Linked DNA regions of Homo sapiens. The protein of the gene in region 1 purifies or fractionates together with the protein of each later gene. This does not show direct contact. Each region holds a gene or a part of one and is shown in the gene's direction. Other genes may lie near its edges. The genes, in order: ARL14EP, IFT172, ARPC1A and DYNC2LI1.

Evidence for each region.
Region 2: the proteins of ARL14EP (region 1) and IFT172 fractionate together in Homo sapiens (co-fractionation; one large-scale study listed by BioGRID). This does not show direct contact.
Region 3: the proteins of ARL14EP (region 1) and ARPC1A purify together in Homo sapiens (affinity purification with mass spectrometry; one large-scale study listed by BioGRID and IntAct). This does not show direct contact.
Region 4: the proteins of ARL14EP (region 1) and DYNC2LI1 purify together in Homo sapiens (affinity purification with mass spectrometry; one large-scale study listed by BioGRID and IntAct). This does not show direct contact.

The regions. Positions count from the first base shown.
Region 1 is NC_000011.10:30,335,872-30,338,753, forward strand, and holds the end of ARL14EP (ARL14 effector protein), read left to right. Parts: intron 1-695; coding exon 696-924; 3' UTR 925-2,352; downstream 2,353-2,882.
Region 2 is NC_000002.12:27,455,243-27,458,814, reverse strand, and holds part of IFT172 (intraflagellar transport protein 172 homolog), read left to right. Parts: coding exon 1-36; intron 37-591; coding exon 592-689; intron 690-838; coding exon 839-974; intron 975-1,059; coding exon 1,060-1,176; intron 1,177-2,161; coding exon 2,162-2,304; intron 2,305-3,572. UniProt on the Homo sapiens protein: Required for the maintenance and formation of cilia. Plays an indirect role in hedgehog (Hh) signaling, cilia being required for all activity of the hedgehog pathway.
Region 3 is NC_000007.14:99,332,390-99,335,961, forward strand, and holds part of ARPC1A (actin-related protein 2/3 complex subunit 1A), read left to right. Parts: intron 1-935; 5' UTR 936-964; coding exon 965-1,028; intron 1,029-3,572. UniProt on the Homo sapiens protein: Probably functions as a component of the Arp2/3 complex which is involved in regulation of actin polymerization and together with an activating nucleation-promoting factor (NPF) mediates the formation of branched actin networks.
Region 4 is NC_000002.12:43,780,474-43,784,045, forward strand, and holds part of DYNC2LI1 (cytoplasmic dynein 2 light intermediate chain 1), read left to right. Parts: intron 1-3,046; coding exon 3,047-3,081; intron 3,082-3,572. UniProt on the Homo sapiens protein: Acts as one of several non-catalytic accessory components of the cytoplasmic dynein 2 complex (dynein-2 complex), a motor protein complex that drives the movement of cargos along microtubules within cilia and flagella in concert with the intraflagellar transport (IFT) system, facilitating the assembly of these organelles.

The DNA.
Region 1 (2,882 bases):
TCCGTTCTATGGGTAGCAGCTAAAAGGTAATTACATTTTATGAGAATGCAAGGTTTTTATTTTTTACATGTCTGAAATAGAAATGCAGTTCTGTATAGTCAACATAATGAATGGGAGAACTAAATTGTTTAGAATATGACTCTAAAACAAATGTTAATATAATCATTCAGAATTTTTTTTCTAAGTTCAGTCAACATTTCTATATATGCCATGTATTCCATCTGTTAAAATTTACCATTGAGTCATTTAAATATTTTTAGGCCAAATTTACTAGAGTCCATTAAAGAACAAGAAACATTAATTGTAGTATAAAAATCTATAGAGGTGGTATACTATAATAAAAATAAAACTGTGTTGATAAAACAGTGAAGAGGTTGGTAGCTAATAAAGTGAACCACTATTAACCTGTCATTCTTTTTTGTTTGTTTAAAGTAAAGGGAAAATTATGCACTTCAAGAAGCGTATTCAGAATTTTTAGATTTGTCTCAACACTCTATAGAGTTAGGTCTCCTCTTCTCACATGGAGTTCATTTACTGCTGACGATAGAATAAGCCTTGAGCCTGATAAATTATAGATGATTTTGGCATGACCTCATCTAAAAATATTTTATCTCCTTTTTTTTTTTTACTGTATTTTCAATTAAATCAAAAATAACATATTTATGAGGTATAATTCATTGTGTTTTATTTTACAGACAAGTGATACCAGCAAAGAGTAAGGTCTATGATAGCCAGGGTCTCCTGATTTTTAGTGGGATGGACCTCTGTGACTGCCTGGATGAAGACTGCTTAGGATGTTTCTATGCTTGTCCTGCCTGTGGTTCTACCAAGTGTGGAGCTGAATGCCGCTGTGACCGCAAGTGGCTGTATGAGCAAATTGAAATTGAAGGAGGAGAAATAATTCATAATAAACATGCTGGATAATCTGCGGTACCAAACTATGGAGCCTTTAAAGGTCTTTATTTCTAAAAATCTGTTACTCTAAGATACATTTTAAGCTTGATTATCATATGACAAAGATTTTAAAACCATCTCAGTGTGCCCTAATTTTTCATCTTGGGTGCTTTAAGATTCACTATTTGATATAAATTCAGATAGGCTATTTTTCAGTAGTCAGCGTTAAGCCTGTCTGGATCAATATAAACAAGTAGGGTGTAGGCAGTCCTCTATTTGCATGTTTCCCATGGGCACAAATTTCAGTGACCTAGATTTAGTTTAAATACCAGTTTCCTTACCAGGAAGGAAAGAAAACTGGTAAGGAAACTGTTGTTGTTAAAATCTAGGTTAAAATTTTAGTTAGCACATTGTAACTGAGTAATTACATGAAGTACAAACCTCTCTGCTAGCTCTTCAGTCTACAAATCGCTATGTAAATAACAGATATGCTTCATGATTGTGACCAGTCATGTTATTTCTTTCAAATTCTTCCAGTGGTTTGTCCCTGTGCATCTGTTAATTCAGTTCACGTACAGCAGAGCATGTAGTTATGCTGTCTCTCTGTCATCTACTTGACATTCTATAGAAGTGAACACTCGAAAGAACTGGTCAACAAAGATGAAAGTGCAGCAAAGCAATGAAAAATGATAACACTGGAAGTGAAATTTTAATCAAACATAAATGAATTTGTAGAAGAAGTCACTGACCATGGGAATGTTGTTCTTGCTGCTGTGTATTCATAGGAGCTTAGTGAAGGCAAACTTACCAACACAAATAAGCAAAGTGGTTGCAATAAAGACAGATACGTCCCAGAGGAAGTGATGGTTAAAAAAAAAAAACTTTACATTAAAAGATATTTAATGTGAATATAGAAATATTTCACAACATTGAAAGCACAAGCAATAAAAGGGTGGAAGCTGACCCAAACTTAGAAGGAGTATGGCAGTTTGCCGTGAACATAAAAGATGCTTACTCAGTATGGTAAGTTACTTGCCAGAAAAAAAGGCAAGCCCTATTCAAACTACTTTGTTTTTACAATGAAATAAAACACTTTAATTCTATTTCTAATGTTTTAAATTACAGTGTACTAAATATTTTTAAACATTTTTGCATTTTTTTCTACATTTATAACTGGTCTTAAGAGTTTTTAATATTTGAGCAGAACCTTAAAGGTCATGGAACAATCATCATTTTCCCTATTGATTATTAAGATTGCAGGACCATTTTTATGGTCCCACAGTACCATGTGAAATGAGGATCGCTTGTAGCTGGGAACAGTGCTTACTTCAGGGAAAACTGATTTTGATAGAACCGACTAGTTGAGTATTAAACTGTTTTGGAAATAATTTATATATCTAAGTGCTGAAATATATTTCTCTTCTCCCCACTTATTCAAATAAAAAAGTTTTAATACTATAAACTTTTCATTGTTAGCGCCACGCAGTCCTTGTCAAGATTGTTCTGGGGGACAAAAACTTGATGTATAAAGCATGAATATACACACAGTACTTAAACAGATACCATATCTGTGGTATTAAAATTTTGGGGGTGGTTGATTAGGATTGTAAAAAGACTCCTTAGGGAGTGAGGATGGAAAAGAGAAACACTGGTTAATACAGAGTATAAATAAATTTTTTGGAAATTGATTGCATCTTGATGTTGGAATTTGCTTGGATGCTATTTGGAGGATGGGGGAATGGTATCGTCTCTTTGCTTTTATTTTATTTTTTTTTGAGACAGTCTTACTCTGTTGCCCAGGCTAGAGTGCAGTGGCTCAATCTCGGCTCGCTGCAATCTCCATCTCCTGGGTTCAAGTGATTCTCCTGCTTCAGCCTCCTGAGTAGCGGGGACTGCAGGCGCGTGCCACCACGCCCAGCTTATTTTTTTGTATTTTTAGTAGAGACGGGGTTTCACCATATTAGCCAGGATGGTCTTGATCTCCTGAC
Region 2 (3,572 bases), on another chromosome or scaffold:
TACACCCAGGCTGGTCGTTGGGAACAAGCCCACAAGGTAGGGATGGGTGGAGTTCATGATAAGAGAACTCTGCCTTAGTGGCATTGTGGCCTCATTCCTTGATACCTGTTTCTCCTCTTCGCTTGGCTCCCTGAAAGCTGACAAAGAGTACCAAAAAACAGTCTGAGCCACTTTGATCCCTAGCCATAGGGAAAGGAAGGGATGAAGAGAGGCCCTTGTTTCCAGACCTATCTATCATTCTGAAGGAGCAGATGGGCTTGGGAGCTGGGGAATCTGAACTACCACTCCTAATGCCTCTGGTCACATTGATGACTTTGTTCTTGCGCCTACACTTCAGAGTCCAGTGGTTACCGTGGTAATGGGAGTGTATGCCCCAGCCAAGGCATCGCAGACCTTCCCACCTTAGCAGAATATAGTTCTTCCTCTGCTTCTTATGGACTTGGAATTCCCCAACCTCACTAGTAGAGTGGCAATACCCAAACTCCTGTGATTGTTGGGAGAGTTCAGAGTTTCTGAACAAGCAGGTTTCCTTGAAGCCCTGCTTCCCTGGGGAATTGGATCTGAGGCTGCCTTGCCTCTGTGCCTCCACAGCTGGCGATGAAATGCATGAGACCAGAAGATGTGTCAGTGCTATACATCACTCAGGCCCAGGAAATGGAGAAGCAGGGCAAGTACCGTGAGGCTGAAAGGTGAGCCGTGGCCCCAGAGGAGGTGTAGAGGGAGATGAGATTTCAAGGCTGGGACGAGGGATGGGGTCTGAGGATGTGTACCCTCTGCCCAGAAGGCAGTGATAGCAGGGGTCGGGTCTAGGAGGCCCCAGATGTATCTCCTTCCCCAGGCTATATGTGACAGTACAAGAGCCTGATCTTGCCATCACCATGTACAAAAAGCACAAGTTGTATGATGACATGATCCGCCTGGTAGGGAAGCACCATCCAGATCTCCTCAGTGATACACACCTACATCTGGGCAAGGTGAGCCCTTCTCCTGGCTCTCCCTATCTCTTCCCCAACCAGGCTCCATCTCCCCATCTCTCCATCCTGACTCACCTTCCTGCAGGAGCTGGAGGCTGAAGGCCGACTACAGGAGGCTGAGTACCACTACCTCGAGGCCCAGGAATGGAAGGCAACAGTGAACATGTACCGGGCCAGTGGGCTTTGGGAAGAGGCCTACAGGGTAAGGAGTTCAGGCCACACTGAGGGATACATCCATCCTTCTTTCCCACGTTTTTCCTTTTTTTCAGAAAGGGTCTCACTCTGTCACCCAGGCTGGAGTGCAGTGGTGCAATTATGGCTCACTGCAGCCTTGACCTCCTGGGCTTAAGCACTCGATCCTCCCACCTCAACCTCCTGAGTAGCTGGGACTATAGGTGTGCACCACCACAGCTGGCTAATTTTTTAATTTTTTTGTAGAGACAAGTTTTCACCATGTTGCCCAAGCTGGTCTTGAACTCCTGGGCTCAAGCGATCCACCTGCCTTGGCCTCCCAAAGTGTTGGGATTACAGCTATGAGCCACCTTGCCCAGCCCTTCTTTCCCACTTTAAGTGACTAATTCACAATTGGTCAGAGCATCTTTGAAAATGTAGTGAAGATCAGAGTCTCTCTTGCCAGAACCATGTCCACATCTGTATACAGAAAATTTCACTTATAATTTTAAGGGTCTGTGGACCAGGTGAAGCCTATCCTTGGACCCTAAGTACTTTAACCTAAGTTAAGAAACCCTGAAATTTAGCCCTCTTCCTGTTAACTTTTTATTTTATTTTATTTTTTGAGATGGAGTTTCGCTCTGTCACCCAGGCTGAAGTGCAGTGGCACAGTCTTGGCTCACTGCAACCTCCACCTCCCGGGTTCAAGCAATTTTTCTGCCTCAGCCTCCCGAGTAGCTGGGATTACAGGCACTCACCACCGTGCCCAGCTAATTTTTGTATTTTTAGTAGAGATGGGGTTTCACTATGTTGGCCAGGCTGGTCTCGAACTCCTGACCTCAAGTTATCCTCTTGCCTCGGCCTCCCAAAATGCTGGGATTATAGGTATGAGCCACCACACCCAGCCTCTTCCTGTTCAATTTAGAACAGTTACTGGATCCTTGTCAAAGCCGAGGTCAGAGATGAGAAGGGAGAAGCTCTGTATTGCAGGATTATTGAGTGACTTTGCTTTACAGGTGGCCAGAACTCAAGGAGGGGCTAATGCCCACAAACACGTGGCCTATCTGTGGGCAAAGAGCCTGGGAGGAGAGGCTGCAGTTAGACTGCTTAATAAGCTGGGACTCCTGGAAGCTGCTGTTGACCACGCTGCAGACAATTGGTGAGGCCCCAAGCTTTCTCTCCACGGGCCCCATCCCAGCCAGAGCCACTATCTAGAGAAAGAAAATTGATGTATAACTGAAAGAAAGATCCTTGGAAGGACATGATAGAGTGGCATGAATAAATTAACTGCTTCTATTCCCTAGGGGCTCAGAACAGTGTTTAACCTTTGGCTGTTCTAAGAAGGGTGGAGAGGAAACAGATTGTAAAGCTAGGACTGCAGACTGCACTAAACCAATAACTTACTCCTGGGTAATGGAAGTGTGATTCTGTCAAATGCAGAGTGAACTGTTTTTTTTTTTGAGACAGAGTCTCACTCCGTCGCCAGGCTGGAGTGCAGTGGCACGATATCAGCTCACTGCAACCTCCACCTCCTGGTTCAAATGATTCTCCTGCCTCAGCCTCCCGAGTAGCTGGGACTACAGGCATGCACCACCACGCCCATCTAATTTTTGTATTTTTAGTAGGGATGGGGTTTCACCATGTTGGCCAGGATGGTCTTGATCTCTTGACCTCGTGATCTGCCCACCTTGGCCTCCCAAAGTGCTGAGATTACAGGCGTGAGCCACTGCGCCTGGCCGAACTTTTCTTTTTTTTTGGAAGCACCAGAGTCCGTGAAGCATTTTATTTGTAAATATGTATTACATCTCTAGAAAAAGAATCCCAGGATTTTCCCTCCTATATGTTGCTGTCTTGCTTCTTCATGGTCCATGATGCCAACTGAGGTTGTCAGTACAATAAAACCAAACTGGCAGGATGGGAGCAGATTATTCTGCCATTTTTCTTTTTTGTTTTTTTTCTGAGACAGAGTCTCGCTCTGTTGCCCAGGCTGGAGTGCAGTGGTGCAACCTTGGCTCACTGCAAGCTCCGCCTCCCAGGTTCAAGCCATTCTCCTGCCTCAGCCTCCTGAGTAGCTGGGACTACAGGTGCCCGCCACCACGCCCGGCTAATTTTTTTGTACTTTTTTAGTAGAGACAGGGTTTCACCCTGTTAGCCAGGCTGGTCTCAATCTTCTGACCTTGTGATCCACCTGCCTTGGCCTCCCAAAGTGCTGGGATTACAGGCGTGAGCCACCGCGCCCGGCATATTCTGCCATTTTTCTAGATCTCTGATTTGCACATCAAATCTGGGGCTGATCACTCTACACTTGTTTAGCCTGCCTGTGAGGTTCACAGCAATTTTCCTAGCTGTGATCATCAATTATTTCAAAATCGCCAATTTACCATACTTCAGCATCACAATTAGAAACCAGACGATGACTTTGGAGCA
Region 3 (3,572 bases), on another chromosome or scaffold:
TGGTGATTACGTGGTGATTGCCAGATTTCTTCAACGTAAAGGCATCTTTTTCTCTTTGTAGTTAATAAGCAATCTGTGGGATGATAATTTGAGACTAGGAATATCCTGTACCCATGGTTTAAGAGTCCATTGACGACCCTGAACAGAATAAATTCCACATTAGTTGTTACAATGCTAGATTTATTCAGATGGTTAAGTTTTGACAATGAGATAGATTTTTTTTTTTTTTTTTGAGACAGAATCTCACTGTGTCGCCCAGGCTGGAGTGCAGTAGCGCGATGTCGGCTCACTGCAAGCTCCACCTCCCAGGTTCGCCATTCTCCTGTCTCGGCCTCCCAAGTAGCTGGGACTACAGGCGCCCGCTACCATGCCCGGCTAATTTTTTGTATTTTTAGTAGAGACGGGGTTTCACCGTGTTAGCCAGGATGGTCTGGATCTCCTGACCTCGTGACCTGCCTGCCTTGGCCTCCCAAAGAAAGTTCTGGGATTAGAGGTGTGACCACCATGCCCGGCCTTTTTTTTTTTGAGACAGAGTCTCGCTCTGTCGCCCAGGCTGGAGTGCAGTGGCATGATCTTGATTCACTGCAACCTCTGCCTCCTGGATGCAAGCAATTCTCCTGCCTCAGCCTCCCGAGTAGCTGGAACTAGAGGCGTGTGCCACCACGCCCAGCTAATTTTTGTATTTTTAGTAGAAACTGGGTTTCACCAGGTTGGCCAGGCTGGTCTTGAACTCCTGACCTTGTGATCCACCTGCCTTGGCCTCCCAAAGTGCTAGTATTACAAGCGTGAGCCACCGTGCCTGGCCAGATTATTTTTTAATGGGAGGACAATGTTTTATTTATTTCCGAACATCTTAAGATCCTCAGGCAACTTAAACATTGGTTACTTGCCTTTTCCCTATTGTATAAAATGCTTTTTGTTATTGTTCATTGCAGCTTTCTCTCCTTTGAAAACACTAAGAATAATGTCACTGCATCAGTTTTTACTAGAGCCAATCACCTGTCATGCCTGGAACAGGGATCGTACTCGTAAGTATTTTATTAACTTTGCTTTTGTATTTTGGTACCTTTGGTACATTTCATCTTTAGACACATTTAGGGCTCACATATCTCAGTATCACATGTGCAAAGAACATACATCTATTATATACATTCAGAAGGGAACTAAGTCAGTCCTTTGGTTTACAGATAGATAAACTGAGGCCCAGAGTGAAGGAAGGGCTTTGCAGAGGTTACATACCAAGTTCACATTTAGTCAGAGCACTAGGACCTAGAATAAGCTGTTTCAGAGACAAGTGGTTTGCTCCTGAGCTACTCAGAGCATTATTAACTAGTATTTACTATGTTATTCTTAGTCAGCTTGAGTTTCTAGTTTTCTAGCTCCAGCAAACTAGAAAGGGATGGAGAATGCTCTTAGAAGTAGGCACAGTTCAGCAAGCAAAGTGACAGATAATATGACAAGATGAGGCTGGGTGCAGTGGCTCCTGCCTGTAATCCCAGCACTTTGGGAGGCCAAGGCAGGCAAATATCTTGAGCTCAAGAGTTCAAGACCAACCTGAGCAACATGGGGAAACCCTGTCTCTACGAAAAAAAATAGAAAAACTGTGTGTGTGTGTACACACACACACACACACACACACACATATATATGTATTTTTTTTTTTTGAGACAGAGTCTCGCTTTGTCACAAGGCTGAGCATGGAGGCTCATGTCTGTAATCCCAGCACTTTGGGAGACCGAGGCGGGCAGATCATTTGAGGTCAGGAGTTCGAGATCAGCCTGGCCAACATGGTGAAACCCCATCTCTACTAAAAATAAAAAAAATTAACCAGGTGTGGTGGTACCTGCCTGTAATCCCAGCTACTCAGGAGGCTGTGGCAGGAAAATCGCTTGAATCCGGGAGGCAGAGGTTGCAGTGATCTGAGATTGTGCCACTGTACTCCAGCCTGGGTGACAGGGCAAGACTCTCTTTCTCAAAAAAAAAAATAATAACAATAATAATTAAATAATAAAAACACAGAAAGAGCAGGATTGGGGAGAAAAAGTCCAATTTCGCTTATTTTTCTTTTGTTGCTTGTACTTCTGCTGTTGTATCAAAGAAACCATTGCATAATCCAGGATCACAACAATGTGTGCCTATGCCTGTGTTTCCTTCTAAGAGTCTTAAAGCTTTAGTCCTTTTATGTAGGACTTTGGTCCATTTTGAGTTAATTTTTGTGTATCCTGTAAGATAGGGTTCCTTTTGTATGTAGATATCCAGTTTTCATTTTTTTCTTCTTTTTTTCTGTGTTTATTTATTTATTTATTTATTGAGACAGAGTCTTGCTCTGTCATCCAAGCTGGAGTGCAGTGGTGCAATCTCGGCTTACTGCAACCTCCGCCTCCCAGGTTCAAGTGATTATCATGTCTGAGCCTCCCAAGAAGCTGTGATTACATGCATGCGCCACCACACCTGGCTAATATTTTTTTTTTTGAGACGCAGTCTCGCTCTGTCGCCCAGGCTGGAGTGCAGTGGCACAATCTTGGCCCACTGCAAGCTCCGCCTCCGGGGTTCACACCATTCTCCTGCCTCAGCCTCCTGAGTAGCTGGGACTACAGGCACCAGCCACCATGCTCGGCTAATTTTTTTTGTATTTTTAGTAGAGACAGGGTTTCACCTGTTAGCCAGGATGGTCTCAATCTCCTGACCTCGTGATCTGCCCGCCTTGGCCTCCCAAAGTGCTGGGATTACAGGTGTAAGCCACTGCGCCCGGCCCACACCTGGCTAATTTTTGTATTTTCAGTAGAGACAGGGATGCGCTATGTCACCCAGACTGGCCTCGAACTCCTGGCCTCCAGCAATCCACCTGCCTTGGCCTCCCGAAGTGCTGGGATATACTTAGTGGGCATGAGCCACCACACCGGCCAAGATAATCGAGTTTTTCCTGCACCTTTTGTTGAAAACTATCCTCTCTGTTTTATTGCCTTGGCCCCCTTTTTGAAAATCAACTGACTGTAAAGATGAGAGTTTATTTCTGGACTCTCAATTCTATTCCATTGTTCTTTATGTTTATCCTAATTTCAGGACCAGTCTGTCTTGATTACTATAGCTTGGTGGTAAGTTTTGAAATCAAGAAGTGTAAGTTCCAACTTTGTTCTTTTCAAGATTATTTTGGTTATTGTGTCGCTTGCATTTCCATATGAATTTTAGGATCAGTTTGTTAATTTCTTTTAAGACGTCAGCTGAGATTTTGACAGAGATTACTTTGAATCTGTAGATTCACCATCTTTTTAAAGCATTTCAGGGCTGGGCGTGGTGGCTCATACCTGTAATCCCAGCACTTTGGGAGGCCAAGGCAGGCAGATCACGAGGTCAGGAGATCAAGACCATCCTGACTAACACAGTGAAACTCCATCTCTATTAAAAATACAAAAAATTAGCCCGGTGTGGTGGCGGGCGCCTGTAGTCCCAGTTACTCGGGAGGCTGAGGCAGGAGAATGGCGTGAACCTGGGAGGCGGAGCTTGCAGTGAGCCGAGATTGTGCCACCGCACTCCAGCCTTGGCAACAGAGTGAGACTCAGTCTCAAAAAAGA
Region 4 (3,572 bases), on another chromosome or scaffold:
GGGAGGTAGAGTAGTTGTTTATAGGTGGCACTGGGGAGCAAGGAGGACCCTAATGTATGTAGGGTAGTGAGAATAAATAGCTTCGTTTAACAAGGCTGCAGAGGAAGGGGTTCAGGGTAAGTCATATTTTAGTTAAGGCCAACATGTGGAGAGAATATTCTGAAAAGGCTGAGATATTGGGGAGTTTGCCAGTCATGGAGCTGAAGTCATAGAGTGGAAGGATTTTAGAGGAAGGGAAGACAGAAGGGGATTATTGGGCCAGATTAAGGGATGTTTACAGAGTTAGGAAATTCAGAGTTCCAGGGATAATGGGTCAGAGGAGAGGGCTGGACATCTGGGGCGATTGAGGCAATGGGAGGGAAGATGGGATTCATTTTGATGGTCTCTAAATGAACTTGTACTAGGTCAATGTTTCTTGAATTAGGAAACCCACAAGACTACAGCCACATGCTCAGGGGACCAGAGTGTACTAATGAATTTTTAAATTTTGGATTGTAATTTTAATGATAATCTAAAACTTGATTTCAGTTCCCAGATTAGTTTATGTTAATTTGGAATTGTTACCATATAGTGCTATACATTTATATGAAATAATAATAAAAGTGATTTAAGGCCAGGCGTGGTGGCTCAAGACTGTAATCCCAGCACTTTGGAAGGCTGAGGTGGGAAGATCACTTGAGGCCAGGAGTTCAAGACCAGCCTGACCAACATAGTGAAACCCCATCTCAACTAAAAAATACAAAAAGTTACCTGCACGTGGTGGTGCATACTGGTAATCCCAGCTACTCCGGAGGCTGAGGCCTAAGAATCACTTGAACCCAGAGGCAGAGGTTTCATGAGCCAAGATGGTGCCACTGCACTCCAGCCTATGCAACAGAGGGAGACTCTGTCTCAAAAAAAAAAACAAAAAAGGCGAGGGGGAGTGATTTAAATCAATGAATACTAGTGTACCATGAAAATTTGAGGAAATTGGCTAGATATTATTTAAAATTCCTTCCAATTCTTATTCTACTTTCTTGCAGAGTACATTACTTTTTGGGTAATGTAGCCCTTATTAATTTAGAACTTTTACAGCATACTACATATGATACAAGTTCATTGTAGGAAAATTAGAAAATCCTGATTTTCTTTTTCTTTTTTTTTTTTTGAGACAGAGTCTCGCTCTGTCGCCTAGGTTCGAGTGCAGTGGTGTGATCTCGGCTCACTGCAGCCTCTGCCTCCTGGGTTCACACCATTCTCCTGCCTCAGCCTCCCAAGTTGCTGGGACTGCAGGTGCCCACGACCACGCCTGGTAATTTTTTTGTATTTTTAGTAGAGTTGGGGTTTCGCCATGTTAGCCAGGATGGTCTTGATATCCTGACCTCGTGATCCACCCGCCTCGGCCTCCCAAAGTGCTGGGATTACAGGCGTGAGCCACCATGCCTGGCAGAAAATCCTGATTTTCTTAAAAACTTTAATTACCTTCAAATCCTTCAGCTAGAAATAATCATTATTAACATAGTGATGTCCCCCTACATTTGTGTGTTTGTTTCTGTCTATGTGTGTGTGTGTGTGTGTGTGTGTACTTCAAGGAAGCAGGAAAAGTATTTTTTAATTGAAAACAGAGACATGCTGATCTATTATGAATGTTTTACTATGTCAGTAAGTATATTTCTACATTGTCATTCATAATAGCTGTATATTATTCTATTATATGGTTTACCATAATTAATTTAGCCAGTAGGGGACATGTAGGTTGTTTTTAGTTTTTCAGTTTGATGTAACACTGGCCAATAAACATCCTTCAATAATATACATTTTTATATTGTACAATTCCAGTTATTTTTTAATATATCTCATTACAAAAAATTTACTCAATTTGATCGTATTCCAGATATAATCTGGAGTAATTATCTTTTTTGTCAAAAACTATAGGTTTTTTTAGTAAAAACAAAAACACATATAATAAGTGTTCTGTGTTTTTGGCAATCCAGAGTTTTCCAAATTATTTTCTTTAGAGCCTGAAGGTTTCCTCCAGTGGAGCTTGTCCTGCTGTTTCTCTTTTATCTGTTTCCTTGCAAGGGGTCTTTTCTTTAAAAAAAAAAAAAAAAAAAGGATTTTACTATTTTTTAAAAATGATATAAACCACTGAGCTAATCCCTGGCTAAGCTGTGAAGTTAAGTTGCCTGACTAGTGGTAGGAATTAGGCCAGAACTTGTATTTCCTTACTCCTAAAAAGAAACTTGGGGTTGGGCATGGTGGCTCACACCTGTAATCCCAGCACTTTGAGAGGCTGAGGTGGGCAGATTAGATGAGGCCAGGAGTTCAAGACCAGCCTAGCCAACATGGCAAAACCTTGTTTCTACTAAAAATACAAAAATTACCCAGGCATGGTGGTGTGCACCTGTAATCCCAGCTACTTGAGAGGGTGAGGCACGAGAATCACTTGAGCCCAGGAGGCAGAGGTTGCAGTGAGCCAAGATCATGCCACTGCACTCCAGCCTTGGCAACAGAGTGAGACTCTGTCTCAAAAATAAAATAAAATAAAATAAAAATAAACAGAAACTTGGAATAAGTACATCCTCTGGACTTAAAACAAATTACTCTAATGCAGTATCTGAATTGCTTACTTTGAACATATTTACAATGTGTCCTTTATTTGTATGTTACCTTTTTCTTTATTTCCACTTCAACAATTGGAATTAAAACATTTTAAAAGACACTAAGCATCGGCTTAACCAGTAATTAACATTGATGAGTAGAGAAAAAATTTAAGACAGCTGCCAAGTTGACCACTTAAGTGAGGTATGATTTGCTAGTATTTGTCATCTGTGGGACTTTATAATTATAATAATAGCAGTGTAGTTACACTGTGATGGAAAGTTGACAGTTAACTTTTTCCACTTATCAAACTTTAGAACAATTCCGAAAGTTTCTAGTTTTTAGTTTCCAGGTAATTTATCATTCAATTGATTAAAAATCTATTTTGGGCCACAATTACGAACAATAATACAATTTTTACATATGAGTGACATTAACGCAGTGTTCCTTCTTTTTTAATTTCCAGGGAAAGACTACTATTATTCTAAGGTGTCTTGACAGGTAAGTGTTATGTTAACCTTTAAACTATATTTATGCTTATTCTAGTTGTATAGGGCAAGTTAGCTCTAAAAGACATAAGGAAGGGGAACGATTTTGAGACCCAAACAAAATATTTAATTCTTAGCAAATCCTTAGTATAACCTTTAAGAGCGCCTTTAAATATAAAACTAACAATAAGCCAAAAATTATATGAGACTAATACTGGATTTCCCTATTTGAGGGAGAAATGTTACCATAATTACCCAACCTACAATAGTATTTACCTTCTTTTTGGCTATGCTACTCTGATATTTAAATTATTTTTGTTCTACCTAATCTACAATTATTTGAACATTCATTGTAAGCTTTAGTTGCTCAGGGGTACATTTTTGAAGCACAGTGTTGGTCCTCAAACTGGATATTTTATCATTTATTTTATATATTTCCTAACGTATACTGTAGAAGCAGGCCATCAGATTAAGATTTAGCAGTATGATTGGTAGATGTTTCAG